2 separate regions of the Homo sapiens genome follow, and region 1 is linked to region 2. Evidence: fine-mapped expression QTL. A gene starts in region 2. The other region holds a variant in brackets. All regions are shown on one strand. Distances are between the middles of the regions.

Region 1 (8,221 bases), 32 kb after region 2:
CCTCTCATTTCCTTTCCATTGTGGAAATCTATCCTCAAGGAAATAACTTCTCAGTGTTCCATCTGCTATTCTACTACTCCTCAGGGATTATTCAGGCCCCCTCCCTTCTCTACACATCAAGCTGGAGGATTTGCCCCACCCAGGACTGGCAAATTAGCTTTACTCAACATGCCCTGAGTCAGATAACTAAAATACCTCTTAGTCTAGGTAGATACTTTCACTGGATAGGTAGAGGCCTTTCCTACAGGGTCTGAGAAGGCCACCGCAGTCATTTCTTCCCTTCTGTCAGACATAATTCCTCAGTTTAGCCTTCCCACCTCTATACAGTCTGATAACAGACGAGCCTTTATTAGTCAAATCAGCCAAGCAGTTTTTCAGGCTCTTAGTATTCAGTGAAACCTTTATATCCCTTACGGTCCTCCGTCTTCAAGAAAAGTAGAATGGACTAAAGGTCTTTTAAAAACACACCTCACCAAGCTCAGCCACCAACTTAAAAAGGACTGGACAATACTTTTACCACTTTCCCTTCTCAGAATTCAGGCCTGTCTTCGGAATGCTACAGGGGGTACAGCCCATTTAAGCTCCTGTATAGACGCTCCTTTTTATTAGGCCCCAGTCTCATTCCAGACACCAGACCAACTTAGACTGTGCCCCAAAAAAACTTGTCATCCCTACTATCTTCTGTCTAGTCATACTCCTATTCTCCGTTCTCAACTACTCATACATGCCCTGCTCTTGTTTACACTGCCGGTTTACACAGTTTCTCCAAGCCATCACAGCTGATATCTCCTCGTGCTATCCCCAAACTGCCACTCTTAACTCTTGAAGTAAATAAATAATCTTTGCTGGCAGGACTATACTGAATCTCCTTAGGCACTCTCTAATCAGATGTCCTAGGTCTTCCCAATTCTTAGACCTTTTATACCGGTTTTTCTCCTTCTCTTATTCCATTTAGTTTTTCAATTCATACAAAATCATATCCAGGCCATCACCAATAATTCTACACAACAAATGTTTCTTCTAACAACCCCACAATATCACCCCTTACCACAAAATCTTCCTTCAGCTTAATCTCTCCCACTCTAGGTTCCCACGCCACCCCTAATCCTGCTTGAAGCAACCCTGAGAAACATCGCCCACTCTCTCTCCATACCACCCCCCAAAAATTTTCGCCGCCCCAGGACTTCAACACTATTTTGATTTTTCTTATTAATATAAGGCGGCAGGAATGTCAGGCCTCTGAGCCCAAGCCAAGCCATCGCATCCCCTGTGACTTGCACGTATACATCCAGATGGCCTGAAGTAACTGAAGATCCACAAAAGAAGTAAAAATAGCCTTAACTGATGACATTCCACCATTGTGATTTGTTCCTGCCCCACCTAACTGATCAATGTACTTTGTAATCTCCCCCACCCTTAAGCAGGTTGTTTGTAATTCTCCCCACCCTTGAGAATGTACTGTGTGAGATCCACCCCTGCCCGCAAAACATTGCTCTTAACTTCACCGCCTATCCCAAAACCTATAAGAACTAATGATAATCCAGCACGCTTTGCTGACTCTCTTTTCGGACTCAGCCCGCCTGCACCCAGGTGAAATAAACAGACATGTTGCTCACAAAAAAATAAATAAATAAAATAAGCAAAACAATATGAGTAAGACGGTCATAGAAAAATACATAGGCCTTAAACACATTATAAATTAAAATTTTTTCATAACAAATTTAAATTAAGACTACATTGAGTCACTGTTTTTCACCTATCAGATTGGTAAAAATCCAATGATATAAATCCAATTTAATGTGTTGGCAATGATGCGGGCAAACTAATTTTTCATCCAAAGCTGATGGAAGTGCAAATTGGTATTAACCTTATGGAGTGGAAATTGGCAATATCTCTCAAATCACAAATGCAGATACTTAGCAATGCCGTTTCTGGGAATTTATCCTGCATATACAGTATGCACCTGCAACAGGCCACGTGTATGAGATTTTTCATCTCATCAGCGTCTGTGATAGCAGATGGTATAACCTGCATGTTCACCACACAGTAGTATAGCATGATAGATTCAGTAAAACAAGCAAGACACTGAATGGTGTGTTTTCTATGTTGGAAGCTGTGTTCAGCAGAGGTGGCAAAGCTTTTATCTATAAATATCTGTGGAAGGAGTTTGAGGGGGGACGGATTTTTTTATTGAGACAGGATCTCAATCTGTCACCCACGCTGGAGTGCAGTGGTGCCATCTCAGCTTGCCACAACCTCCACTGCCTGGGCTCAAGAGATCCTCCCACCTCAGTCTTCCGAGTAGCTGAGACCACGGGTGTGCACCACCACACTCAGCTAATTTTTTGTATTTTTGGTAGAGATGGGATTTCACTGTGTTGCCCAGGCTGGTTTCAAACTCCTAAGCTCAAGTGATTTGCCCCACCTCAGACTCCCAAAGTGCTGAGATTACAGGCACGTGCCACTGCGCCTGGCACTTTCATCTACCTATATCTATATCTATATATTTGTATATGCTTGCATTTGCATAAAGTGAACATATTAGAATAATTCACACTAAAGCGTGAAAGATTGGCAACTCAGACACCTTTCAGAGACAGTGTATCTTTATTTTATTTATTTATTTATTTATTTATTTTGAGACGGAGTCTTGCTCTGTTGCCAGGCTGGAGTGCAGTGGCGCAATCTCGGCTTACTGCAACCTCCACCTCCCAGGTTCAAGCAATTCTCCTGCCTCAACCTCCTGAGTAGCTGGGACTACAGGTGAGCACCACCACGCCCAGCTAATTTTTGTACTTTTAGTAGAGACGGGGTTTCACCATGTTAGCCAGAATGGTTTCGATCTCTTGACCTCTTGATCCACCCACCTCGGCCTCCCAAAGTGCTGGGATTACAGGCGTGAGCCACCACACCTGGCCAGTGTATCTTTAAAAGAAGATGTTTGTTAACCCAAATAAGTCTAGAATTCGATGGACTTTTTGTCAGGGTAGTAAAATAAGTTGCAAAAATGCATACACCGTAAGTCCAGAGATTTGGGGGGTAACAGGGGAGCCATAGATCAGGAGTTTCTGTTTTCCTGAGGATCAGCTCTAATTAGATTAGACCCAATAAAATATAAACAGTTACCCGGTGAGGCCGGTTATGGGACAGGAGCAGGAAGAAAACTCTTTGCTATAGTTCTATTTTACATGATGTTGAAACCGTATGAGTTTATTCTCTAATCAAAATACTAAGCAGTAAAACAGAGGAGTTGCAGTTCATCAGCTCCTGAGCCTTGGGCAAGACCTACAAGATCTACCCCAGCTCCTGTTCCAACAGAGCCTCTGTCATTTATAATCAAGGAACAAATATTTACAAGAAGTTTTATCACCTGTAACAGCTCACTGACACTTGCCAGAAATGCTTTATGTGAATATTGCTATTGCAAGACACTGTGAGACACAAAGAGTGTAGGCAATTCACATAACTTCCCTTAAAACCCAGTTATCTCTTAGGCAGAGCAAAGATAAGGACAAACAACATCATGAAATTGCTGTGAAAGGCAAGTGTGTGCACATTTCTGAAAGCAGCACAAAAACAAAACAGGTTCCGTGTTCAGCAGCTGCACCACAGCTAAACCTCGGCTCCCATCACTGTTGAATCTGAGCTTCCATGCTTCTCAAACCTCAGCGGGCTTAAGAACCACCTGGAGAGGCTGTTAAAAAACACAGGCTCCAGGCCCCTCCCTCAGACATACAATTCAGTAGGTCAGGGGCCCATGAACTTGCATTTCCAGCATGCTTTGTCTCTCGGATGACACTGATGGGGTGGTGCAAGGACCACATTTGAGGAGTCTGCTCCAAAGAAGGGTTCCTCAAACTGTGCCATACAGACACATTACCTGGAATCTTGTTAAAATATAGACTCACTCAGAAAGTCTGGGGTAGGGCCTGGGATACTGCACTTCTTTTTTTTTTTTTTTGAGACAGGGTTTTGCTCCATTGCCCAGGCTGGAGTGCAGGGGCATGATCACAGCTCACAACAGCCTCAGACTCCTGGGTTCAAGCAGTCCTCCCACCTCAGCCTCCTGAGTAGCTGGGGCTACAGGCGTGCACCACCACGCCTGGATAATTTTTTTTTTTAAGAGACAAAGCCTTGTTGTATTGCCCAGGCTGGTCTCAAACTCCTGGCCTCAAGCAATCCTCCTGCCTCAGCCTCCCAGAGCACTGGGATTACAGGGGTGAGCCACCGTGCCTGGCTGGACTCTGCATTTCTTTCTTTTTTTTTTTCCTGAGACAGAGTCTCACTCTGTCACCCAGGCTGGAGTACAGTGGCGCAACCTCAGCTCACTGCAACCTCCACCTCCCAGGATCAAGCAATCCTCCTGCCTCAGCTTCCCAAGTAGCTGGGACTACAGGTGCACGCCACCATGCCTGGCTAATTTTTGTATTTTTAGTAGAGATAGGGTTTCACTGTGCTGGCCAGGCTGGTTTTGAGCTCCTGACCTCTGGTGATCCACCCACCGCAGCCTCCCAAAGTGTTGGGATTACAGGTGTGAGCCACCACTCCTGGCTGGACTCTGCATTTCTGACAAGCTCCCAGGTGCTGCAGATACCACTGGTCTGCAGACCACACTTTGAGTACCAAGGTTCCGGAATAGCCAACTCCAGTTGTTTCACAGATGAGGAAACTGCGCCTTGGAAAAGGTAAGTGACTTGCCAAGGGCACTTGTACAGTAAGGGTGGAGACCAGGTGAGGCCCCATCCAGTGTGGCCGCCATGCCTCAGGAAACCGCCCCGCTCCAACCCCATGTCCCCAGTCTACGCTACAAGCCTGCCTGAGCCAAGAAGGGATGCCAGCCCTTCAGAACATGGCATGGAAATTTACTAAATCATGCACAGTCCTTCACTCTCCGGAGAAATAAACCACTTACCAGGGAGATTAGTTCAAACCACCAGCCTCTGCAAAAATACACTTCTCACAAAATTATTTTTTCAGTTGCGTCACCTTCACTTCCAGTGACACCCCTTCGACCGGCCCTGCTGTGGGAACCTGAAGAAGACGACATGCATTTCTCAACAGATGTGGTCTGAGGC[C/G]GGGCACAGTGGCTCAGGCCTGTAATCCCAGCACTTTGGGAGGCCAAGGCAGGCAGATCATTTGAGGTCAGGAGTTCGAGACCAGCCTGGCCAACACAGTGAAGCCCCGCCTCTACTAAACATATAAAAATTAGCTGGGCGTGGTGATCCCAGCTACTTGGGAGGCTGAGGCAGGAGAATCGCTTTAACCGGGGAGGCAGAGGTTGCAGTGAGTTGAGATTGTACCACTGGACTCCACCCTGGGCAATAGAGTGAGACTCTGTCTCAAAACAAACAAAAAACATGTGTTCTAATTGGGAGAAGCAGAAATGGGGGTGGGGAAGCTGATCTTGGGGAAGCTGAGGAATCCCTCCTGAGCCCCAAAGGCTCCAGATTTACACTGTGTGCGTTTTTCCAACTCACTTTATACCTGTCAAAAAGTCCCTTCAATTAGAGATTGATGTGGGTTAACAAGCACTTTCTTTTCAGGATGCATTGCTTCTGGGAGGGTTCTGAGCTGACAATCTTTCACACTTTAGTGTGAATCATTCTAATACAGAGGTAAAGGGAGCAGAATTCAGGAAACTAAAGTCTCTGGAGTAATTACGGCAGAGTGGGCCTTACCTGAGATCCAGAGCTTCATCTGGGAGCACAGCCTTGGATGAACCACAGCTTGGGCCTTGGCCTCTGCACCGTATTCCAGCTTGGGCCTTGGCCTCTGCACCATACTCACCATTCACCAGCAGATCCCCCTAGCCCCCAGCCCCCAGCCCCCAGTGCTTTCAGGCTGTGAGTAGTTTGTGGGCCTGGCTCTGCCAATAACTTGCTATGTGACTTGAGGAAATCACACAGCTTTAGAGACTCTTAAAGCTGGAAGGAAAAGCCCCCAGGGGTCAGCTGGTTCCATGATCCCAGAACCCCGATTTCTAGACTACAGAACACACAGCCCCTATCGGCCTGTTGGAGGCTGGCTCTCCTGGAAGCAGAGCCTGAGACAGGCTTTGGGCTTCACATGATTAATGAAGGGAGGGAACCTCAAGACAGAAGGCTATCTTTTATTTTTACACAGGGTCTCACTGTATTGCCCAGGCTGGAGTGCAGAGGTGCAATCATGGCTCACTGCATCCTTGACCTCCTGGGCTCAGGCAATCCTCCAATCTCAAGCAATCCTCCTGCTCCTCCCGAAGAGCTGGGACCACAGGTGTTTGTCACCACATCCAGCTATTTATTTATTTATTTATTTATTTAAGACAGAGTCTTGCTCTGTCACCCAGGCTGCAGTGCAGTGGTGTGATCTCGGCTCACTGCAACCTCTGCCTCTTGGGTTCCAGCGATTCTCCTGTCTCAGCCTCCGGAGTAGCTGGGATTACAGGTGCCTGCCACCATGCCCAGCTAATTTTTGTATTTTTAGTAGAAACGGGGTTTCACCATGTTGGTCAGGCTGGTAACTTTTTTAAATTTTGTGTAGATATGGGGTCTTACCATGTTGCCCCAGGCTAGTCTCAAACCCCTGAGCTCAAGCGATCCACCTGCCTCAGCCTCCCAAAGAGCTGGGATTACAGGTGTGAGCCACTGCACCCAGCCCGAAGGCTGTTTTTAAATAGCACCACAGTGTTGTTCTATTTGAGGCAAAGAGGTCAGGCTTTTGCACCCCTAATTCAGTCAGTGGCCCCCCTGCAGGTGTAGAATGGTATAAACTCCCAGGTATCTCCAGCAAGGTGGCGGGGAGAAGGACACAAATCTGCCGTACCTGGCAGCCCCTCCCCCTTCACAGCAACTAGGAAGTGGATACAAGAGCGAGTTCAGGCAATCTGGGGGCACCAACCCTTCCTTCCAGTTCCAAGAGCCTCTCACATGTGTTTCAAAATACAAAGCCCCTGAGCACAGGAGTTCGAGACCAGCCTGGGCAACATGGAGAAACCCATCTCTACTAAAAACAGAAAAATTAGACAGGCGTGGTGGTGCGCACCTGTAGTCTCGGCTACTCAGGAGGCTGAGGCGGGAGGACTGCCTGAACCAGGGACATGGAGGTTGCAGTGAGCTGAGATTGTGCCAGGCCACTGTGCTCCGGCCTGGGCCACAGAGCAAGACCCTGTCTCAAACAACAACAAAAAGAAGAAAGAAAGAAGAAGCCCCCAAAATCACAAAGGATGGAAGGGGGGGAAAGAACGCAAGCAGTTTTTTCATTTCCAGAAGAATCTTGGAATCTGCCCTCAGAATCAACCCTAACTGCTCTCCGTGGCTTCCCGGCAGGCTTGAGGGGGCCCCTCCTTCCTCCTCACCCTAGCTTCACCCACTGTCCCGCACCGACGGCTACTCCCTGAGGACTTTGCCTTATCTCTTCCTGGAATATTCCACAAGAGATTTCTCCCCAGCTGGTTTCTTCTTGTCAGCTCAAACATCACCTCCGTAGAGATGCCTTCTCTGGCCACCAGGCCACCCCTGTCACTCCCTCTGCGGCACTTTCCACACAGCACTGGCCACTCGACATTATCCTAACTGCATTCAGTTGTGTGTTGTGTGTCGTTCTCCCCACAGGAATGACCACAGGGTCTGGGGACAGAGCCTGGTTCTGGTGTCATCATTGTGTCCTCAGGGCCTGGCACCTGCTTGACACATAGGAAACTCTATAACTTCTGGCAAATCATAGCTGAGTGAATGAACTGGACACATGGGCCAGATGCCAAAATTCCAGCAGAGAAGGAGAACTGGGTCAACTGAACACTCGGCACTCCCAGACGCTGGAGGAAAACAGGCACAAGACTAGGATGGGGATGAAGGAGAGAATCCACCAAGAGTTTTCTTGGCCCTTTGATTCCTCCCTCCTCTCCCAGATCCCTCTCTCAGCTCCTACCTTGGAAAAACGTTCACTTTTTTTTTTTTTTTTCTGAGATAGAGTCTCGCTCTTTCGCCCAGGCTGGAGTGGAGTGGCGCAATCTTGGCTCACTGCAACCTCCACCTCCCAGGTTCAAGTGATTCTCCTGCCTCAGCCTCCAGAGTGGCTGGGATTACAGGCGCCCGCCACCACACCTGGCTAATTTTTGTATTTTTAGTAGAGACGGTTTCGCCGTGTTGGCCAGGCTGGTCTCAAACTCCAGACCTCAGGTGATCCACCTGCCTTGGCCTCCCAAAGTGCTGGGATTACAGGCATGAGCCACCACGTCCAG
Region 2 (8,402 bases):
GGGCCCTGGGGACCCGGCAGCTGTGGCCTCAAGGCAGGGACTGTGCCTTGGAGTGACACTGAGCCTCCCAGCCTGACACGGTGGGCACACAGCTGCCCTGGAAACCCTGTCCACAGATGATCTGCCTCTCCCCCAACTGGGCAGCCTTCCTCTGAGTGCAGCCCAAACATCATTGCTAAGGGCAAGTTTCTTTTTTTGCTGCCTCCACCCACCCAGAGAAACAGGTTAACAAACAGGGACCAGGCAGGGACAGCACAGCCCCAACCTCAAGGCCACTGTCCCCCACATGCTCTGCACACCAGGAACCCCACAGCCAGTGCCACCCCTGACCTTGGTCAGGAGACCCACCCTGCCCTTGTCTTAGCCCAGAGGTAAGAACCCACAACACAGGCTGGGCACGGAGGCTCACACCTGTAATCCCAGCACTTTGGAAGGCCGAGGTGGGCGGATCACCTGAGGTCAGGAGTTCAAGACCAGTCTGGCCAACATGGTGAAACCCCATCGCTACTAAAAATACAAAAATTAGCCAGGCGCAGTGGCAGGTGCCTGTAGTCCCAGCTACTCGGGAGGCTGAGACACAAGAATCATCTGAACCCAAGAGGCAGAGGATGCAGTGAGCTGAGATCGTGCCGCAGCACTCCAGCCTGGGTGACAGAGTGAGACTCCGTCTCAAAAAATAAAAATAAAAATAAAATAATAAAACAACCTGCAAGACAGAGAGGAGGCTTAAGAAAGATCTGTGTGAGTACGGTACTCCCTTCCTGGTTCCCTGGCCCTGGGTTGACCCTATGTGCAGTGACAAGTGAGGCTTGTCACCCCCAGCCCCGGGGACCAAATCTGAACCTGTGCAGTGGGTTAAATAGCATCTCCTCCAAATCCACATTCACCCGAACCCGAGTGTGACCTTGTTTGGAAATGGGGTCTTTGTGAAGTAGGAGGTAGGACCGACTCCAGAGGCAGAGCCCTGACACTGGACCAAACTGAGGACTAGTGAAAACAGGGGTGGACGGGGCAGAAGCAGCATTCCAAAAGACATGCTCAGCAGTGTGCCATGTCAGTTTACCATTGCCATGGCAACGCCTGGGAGTTACCACCGCTTTCCATAGCAATGACCCAATGTCCCAAAAGTTACTACCCCTTCCCTAGAAATGTCTGCATAAACTGCCCCTTAATCTGCATGCAATTAAAGGTGGGTATAAATATGACTGCAAAAGGCCCCGAGCTGCTCCTCAGTACGCTTCCTCTGGCACAGCCCTGCTCTGCAGGAGCTGGCACAGAGCTATAACATCTCTTCAGTAAAGCTGTTTTCTTCTACCACCAGCTTGCCTTGAATTCTCTCCTAGGGAAAGCCAAGAACCCTCGCAGGCTAAGCCCCCTTGGGGGCTCGCCTGTCCTGTGCCACTTACAGGCATTATTAAATGAAGGATGTCAAGATTAGGCCATCCTGGATTTAGGCAGTTCCCTAAATCCAGTGACTAGTGTCCTAGGAAGAAGAGGAGAGGACATAGAGACACACAAAGGGAAAGGCCACGCAAAGACAAAGGGAGATCTGAGTGACTAGGCCACAAGCCAAGGAAGCCAGGAGCCACCAGGAGCTGGAAGAGGCAAGGGAGGCTCCTTCTCGGCACCTTTAGAGGGAACGCAGCCCTGCAGGCACCCTGATCTCACACTTCCGGTCTCCAGAACTGTGAGACGACACATTCCTGTTGCTCTAAGCCACCCGAAGCTTTCTAATTGGTTATGGCAGCCCAACTTCCTCAGCACCCCAGCCCCTGGGCACCAGCCCCCACCTCAATCTGCTGCTCTCCCTCTCCCTCATCCCCCAGCCAGTCTTTGCCTGGTCCTAAGACCCACCCCTCCTGGAGCTTTTTCCCCTCTCCCTTGCTTTTCTTTCTCTCTTTTTCTTTTCTCCTTTTTTTTTTTTTTTTTTTTTTTAAAGACAGGGTCTCACCCTGTTGCCCAGGCTGCAGTGCAGTGATGCGATCCTTGCTACTGCAGCCTCAACCTCCTGGGCTCAAGTGATCCTCCCACCTCAGCCTCCTGAGTAGCTGGGATTACAGATGTATGCCACCACACCTGGCTAATTTTCCTTTTTTTAGAGATGGAGTCTCGCTATGCTGCCCAGCCTGGTTTCAAACTCCTGGCCTCAAGCCGTCCTCCTGCCTTGGCCTCCCACAGTGCTGGGATCACGGGCGTGAGCCACCAGCCCAGCATCCCTTGCCTTTCATTCGCACCTCCACCTCCAGAATGACCCTCATTCCCTCCTGCACAGACGGTGACAGCAGTAACTCCTACAAACACCACCAGACTGATCTTCAAGAGCAGAGGAACTCCCAATCACGATTCCACCCCCGCCGGGCTCTCAAATCCTCCAGGGCTGCCTGCTATGGGGAGGGAGGCACACTTTGCTTGGCTCTCAAGGCCTCAGCCAGCCGGGTCCAAACCAGCTCCCAGCCTGGCCTCACCATCCCACCGCCAAACCTTTGCTCACACTGGCCCCTCTTCCTGGAACATGGGCCTCATGACCCCAGGTCTACCTGTGTGACCACCACCCCACCTTCTAGACCATTTCCAGTAGCCCCTCCCCCATGCTGCACCCCTGCTTCTCATGACCTAGGGGTTTCCAGAACATTGGGTCCAGCTGGGTCCTTCCACCCATCCTTAATGTCCCAACCCTTTGTTGTATATTTCCACAAGGGCCAGGGTGGACCCAACTCTTCTTTCAATCCCTCGCAGGCTCATACCCCAAACCTCCAACAGTTCCTGAGCACTCAACCCTGTGCCAGGCGTTGGAGACAGAGGCACGAGACAGCAAGGTCCTTGTTGTCATGGCAGTGACTCTGCAGTGGGCACGTGGGAGGCACCGGAAAAATGTGTTGAATTTGAGTCAATTGAACTGGATCTTGGAGACTGAGGGGATCTTGGTCTGGCCTCCCAGCCAGCAGGCATAAGAGGCTTCCAGATCCTTTTTTTCCTTTCTGTCCTCATTTCAACTTATTTTTCTTTTTACCAACAGTGTTATCTTTCTGCTTTTTAATTCTGTTCTGTTATGGAGGGAGGGTTGGAGGGGAACAGGCTGCCTTCTCCAGGCATCTGGCTGCTCTTCTGCCGTGGGTCTTGGGTCCCTAGACACTTTCACCAGCCCCTGCCCCCCTCCACCGGCCATACCCAGGACTGGGCCGCTGCTGCCCGCCCGGGGCTCCCCAACACCCACAAGCCTGGAAAGGTGAGATGCTGCCACCTACCCCCAGTGCCTGCCCCGACCTAAGACCACCCTGAGGACCATGCCCACCCAGCCAGAACTGCCCACCCAGCTTGCCCGTCGGAGCCCGAAGTGAGCGGCAGACAGGGCAGACGGCGGCCGTGGGAATCTCAGAGGGTGTCTGCAGTCCGGCTGGGAAGCATCGCAACTTCTCACCAGCAAGAATGCCCTGGTTGCTATGGTTACGGCAGATCCTGGATCTAGGCCAAGGCCTCCCAATGCAGGTCCCTAGGGACCCCCCAGTACTCACAGCGCAGCCAGGTGAAGCCCCGGGGCATGGTGGTGTTCCTCGTCCCCCTGAGAGCTCAGGCGCCGTCCCCAGCAGTGTGTCCACAGAGGCCTAAGCACGGCCTACATGGCCTCGGGGCAGCAGAGGTGGTCACTCAGTCAGGGAAGGGCTGGCCCTGGAGGAGTGGCTGGGCTGCGGGAGTGAGCAGGTGCCCCAAGGGCAGCAGCTGCCCTTATCTGCCCGGCAGCGTGGAGGACAGCCGGGGGGCGGTGGCCGCAAGTCCCATGGCAGCCCAGAAGCAGGTCTGAGCCGGTGGCTTGGGGGTCTTTCGGGGTCTTCCTTTCCAAGGAGCAGGAGGAGAGAGTCCCTGGCAGGCCCCTCGGAATCTGGGGCTGGGTGACGCTTTCTCTGATTTCTCCGACTGCAGCTGCTCAGTGTGAAATCTGGCTCTAGGAAGAGAAAGGAGGAGAGAAACTGATTATGTAAGAGCAGCGCTGCCACTCAGCCATCAGCCACAGCGCACACCGCACCCACGGCCTGCACAGGACCACCCGGCCCTGGCAGCTGGACACGGCTCACGTGAGAAATGACTTCAGGATGTCCGAACGGCCCTGGCCCATGAGTGAGTTATGATGACACCAGCTGGCAGCCTGGGGCCTGAACAAAAGCAGGACCAAGGAATGAACAGGTGGTTTGAGTTCACACATCGAGAGCCATGGTAGAGTCCATGAATGACTCAGGCTAAAGGACAGGTTAAAAAAGCAGACGAGCTCCCACTCCGAAAACAAGCCGGACGCAATGGCTCATGCTTGTAATCCCAGCACTTTGGGAGGCCAAGGTGGGAGGATTGCGTGAGCCCAGGAGTTCGAGACCAGCCTGGTCAGCATAGTAAGACCTCAGTTCTATTAATAAAAAAAAAATTAAGAAAAAAAAAATTTTTTTGAGACGGAGTCTCAGACTCTGTCATCCAGGCTGTAGTGCAGTGGCGTGATTTTGGCTCACTGCAGCCTCCACCTCCAGGGTTCAAGCAATTCTCCTGCTTCAGCCTCCCAAGTAGCTGGGATTACAGATGTGCACTACCATGCCTGGCTAATTTTTGTATTTTTAGTAGAGATGGGGTTTCACCATGTTGGCCAGGCTAGTCTCAAACTCCTGGACTCAAGTGATCTGCTGTCTTGGCCTCCCAAAGTGCTGGGATTACAGGCGTGAGCCACCGCACCCGGCCAGGACTAAGGTCTTTACATTCACTGAATCTCTCACAACAATCTCATGGAAGTGCAAAATCTCAGTTTATCAATGAGGAAACTGAGGCCCAGAAAGGTTAAGACACTTGTCCAAGGTCATACGGCTTGTAAGAAGTGTGACAGGAATTCAAACCCTGTGGGCTGGTGGCTGCTCCCAAAATTCGACAACCACACAGGGCTCAGCGTGTGTGCGTGGTCCTCCCATCTGCCCCTCTGGACTCTGCAAGGTCTGGACCATTGTGTCTGCTCTGCAGATCAGGCTGGAATTCCGTCTCTGATTTAGTTCTCTTCCATCCCCTCGCCTCCTCCCTGTCTCCCCTCTGGTGGGGGAAAATGGCTACAGAGTGACACCATCGGGGGAGAGCAGGTATGACTTGGGCATCTTCTTCATTGTGTGATCCATGGTGTCACCAAAGAATGCTGGCCCTTACCCTAAGAGGTGCCCAGCAGGCAGGCAGGGCCTTATAGAGAGAACACGGGTTGTTCAAGTTAATCCCTTATGCAGTCACCCTGAATCTCAGCCCCAGTCGCTGCCTGCTGCTGCTCCTCTTTTCCTTGTCCTTCCTCCTTTTCCTCCTTCCTCTTCCTCCTTCTCTTCCTCCTCCTCCTTCCTCGTCTTCCTCCTTCCTCCCTCTTCTTCCTCCTCTTTCCCCCTCCTCCTTCCTACTCTTCCCTCTTCCTTTCTCCTTCCTTCTCTTCCTCCTTCCTCGTCCTCCTTCCTTTTTCCTTCTCCTCCTTCCTCCTCTTCCTCTTCTTCCTCCTTCCTCCTACTCCCTTTCTCTTCCTCCTTCCTCCTCCTCTTCCTCCTTCCTCCTCTTCCTCCTTCCTCCTCCTTCTCCTCCCTCCTCTTCCTCCTTCCTCTTCCACCTCCTTCCTCTTCCTACTTCCTCCTCTTCCTCCTCTTCCCTCCTTCCTCTTCCTCCTTCCTCCTCCCTTCCTCCTTTTCATTCCTCCTCCCTCCTCCTTTTCCTCCCTCCTCCCTCCTCCTTTTCCTCCCTCCTCCCTCCTCCTCTTCCTCTTCCCCCTCCCCCTCCTCCTCCCCCTCCTCCTCCTCCTCACCCTGGCAATTCCCCTGCTGTTACAGCATCACTACAAACACTAACGTATCTAGAACATTTAGTTGTCATTAGTTTGGGGATTTTTTTCAGGTTTATTGAGGGCTAATTTACATATACTACATTTTACCCTTTTCAGTATACATTTCTAAAAGTTTTTAGCACATTTATAGAGCTGTGTAATTACTATAATAATCAAGATACAAAACATTTCCATCTACCCAAAAAATTCATTCCTTTATAGTGGAAGTTGTCTAAACAAACTGAAACAAGGTAGAATAGTATAACAGACCCCCATATAGCAGTTACTCAGATTCAAAAATTGTCAATCTGGCTGGGTGCAGTGTCTCACACCTGTAATCCCAGCACTTTGGGAGGCCGAGGCGGGTGAATCAGTTGAGGCAGAATAAACTCCAAGGAGAAGGGGAAAAAACAACTTCAAATACCAATAGAAAAACAAAAAAGTTATTTCCACAGAGTTGTCCATAAAAGGTCAGGACTTTGAGACCAGCCTGGCCAACATGGTGAAACCCTGTCTCTACTAAAAATACAAAAATTAGCCAGGTGTGGTGGTGCATGCCTGTAATCCCAGCTACTCAGGAGGCTGAGGCAGCAGAATCACTGGAACCCAGGAGGCGGAGGTTGCAGTGAGCCAAGATTGCTCCACTGCCCTCCAGTCGGGGCAACAGAGCGAGATTCTGTCTCAAAACAAAAGAAAAAAATGATCACTCTTCTGTCATTCCAGCTTCACTCATCCCCCAATTTTTTTTTCCAGGAATATTTTAAAGCAAATCTCAAACATGCCATTTCACCAGCATGTAGGGATTTTTAAAATATATAATCACAATATTGTCATCACACAACCCTCAAATTAATAACTCTTTAATATGATTTCATATAGAATCCACGTTCAATTTTCCCTGGTTATTTTTTAAATCTCTGATGTGCATCTTAAGTCTTTTTTCTTTTTAAAAATCAATATATAATTTGCATGCCATAAAATTTACCATTTTAAAGTGTACAGGCTGCGTGTGATGGCTCACACTTGTAATCCCAGCACCTTGGGAGGCCAAGGCCGGGGGATCGCTTCAGCCCAGGGCTTTGAGACCAGCCCGGGCAACATAGTGAGAACCCGTATCTACCAACAAAAATTTTTTTAATTAGGTGGGTGTAGTGGCACGGGCCTGTGGTCCCAGCTACTTGGGAGGCTGAGATGGGAGGATCACTTGAGCCAGGGAGGTCAAGGCTGCAGTGAACCATGATCACGCCACTGCACTCCAGCATGGGTGACAAAGCAAGACCCTGTCTCAAAATAAATAAATAAAGTGTGCAACAGCCAGGTGCAGTGGCTCACTCCTGTCATCCCTGCAGTTTGGGAGGCCAAGGCAGGTGGATCACCTGAGGTCAGGGATTCGAGACCAGCCTGGCCAATATGGCAAAACCCTATCTCTACTAAACATACAAAAGATTAGCCAGGCACGGTGGTGCGCACCTGTAATCCCAGCTACTCAGGAGGCTGAGGCAGGAGAATCACTTGAACCCGGGAGGCAGAGGTTGCAGTGAGCCGAGGTAGTCCCACTGCACTCCAGCCTGGGTGACAGAGTGAGATCCGTCTCAAAAATAAATAAAAATAAATAAAAATAAATAATAAAGTGTACAACTTTGTGGGTTTTTAGTGTACTAAGTTGTGCAACAGTCACCATTATTTAATTACAGAACATTTTCATCACCCCCAAAATAAACTCTGAACTCATTAGCAGTCACCCCCTATTCCCTCTTCCTCCCAGCCCCTGGCAGCCACTAATATTCTTTCTGTCTCTATGGATTTGCCTATTCTGGACATTTCATATAAATGGGATTGATTATGCAATACGGGACCTTTCATGTCTGGCTTCTTTCACTTAGCATGTTTTCAGGGTTCATTCATTTTGTAGCATGTTATGAACTGAATGTTTGTGTCTCTCCAAAATACATGTGTTGAAGTTGTAACCCCTAATGTGGTGGTTCCTGGAGATGAGGCCTTGGGAGATAATTAGGTTTGGATGAGGTCACAAGGATGGGGTCCTTATGGTGGGATAATGCCTTTATAAGAAAAGAAATCAGGCCGGGCTCAGTGGCTCACGCCTGTAATCCCAGCACTTTGGGAGCCCAAGGCGGGAGGATCACAAGGTAAGGAGTTCAAGACAAGCCTGACCAACATGGTGAAACACCGTCTCCACTAAAAATACAAAAATTAGGCGGGCGCAGTGGCAGGTGCCTGTAATCCCAGCTACTCAGGAGGCTGAGGCAGGAGAATCGCTTGAACTCAGAGGGCAAAGTTTGCAGTGAGCCGAGATCATGCCACTGCACTCCAGCCTGGGTAACAGAGTGAGACTCCGTCTCAAAAAAAAAAAAAAAAAAAAAGACATCAGAGTACGCTCACTCTCTCTGTCTCTGTCTTTGTCTCTCTCTCTCTCTGTCTCTTCCCATACTCACACAAAGAACTGGTCATGTGAGTACATAGTGAGAAGGTGGCCATCTGCAACCCAAGGGAAGAGCCCTCACCGGAAATCAATCATGCTGGTGCCCTGATCTCAAAGTTCCAGCCCAGAGAATGGTGAGAAAACAGATTT

Evidence for each region.
Region 1: its variant is fine-mapped to the expression of IL34 in whole blood (TOPMed, PIP 0.96).

What each region holds. Positions count from the first base shown.
Region 1 is chr16:70,609,924-70,618,144 of GRCh38, reverse strand. It overlaps a transcript of IL34 not described here. Among named protein-coding and RNA genes, the nearest start is that of IL34, 33 kb to the left of the region's middle. The variant C/G (reference allele first, on the strand shown) is at 5,076.
Region 2 is chr16:70,642,086-70,650,487 of GRCh38, reverse strand. It overlaps IL34 (interleukin 34), which reads right to left and starts at 3,929. Exons shown (of 6, transcript NM_001393494.1): 1 at 3,513-3,929. The coding sequence starts at 3,540. RefSeq lists an enhancer at 197-697.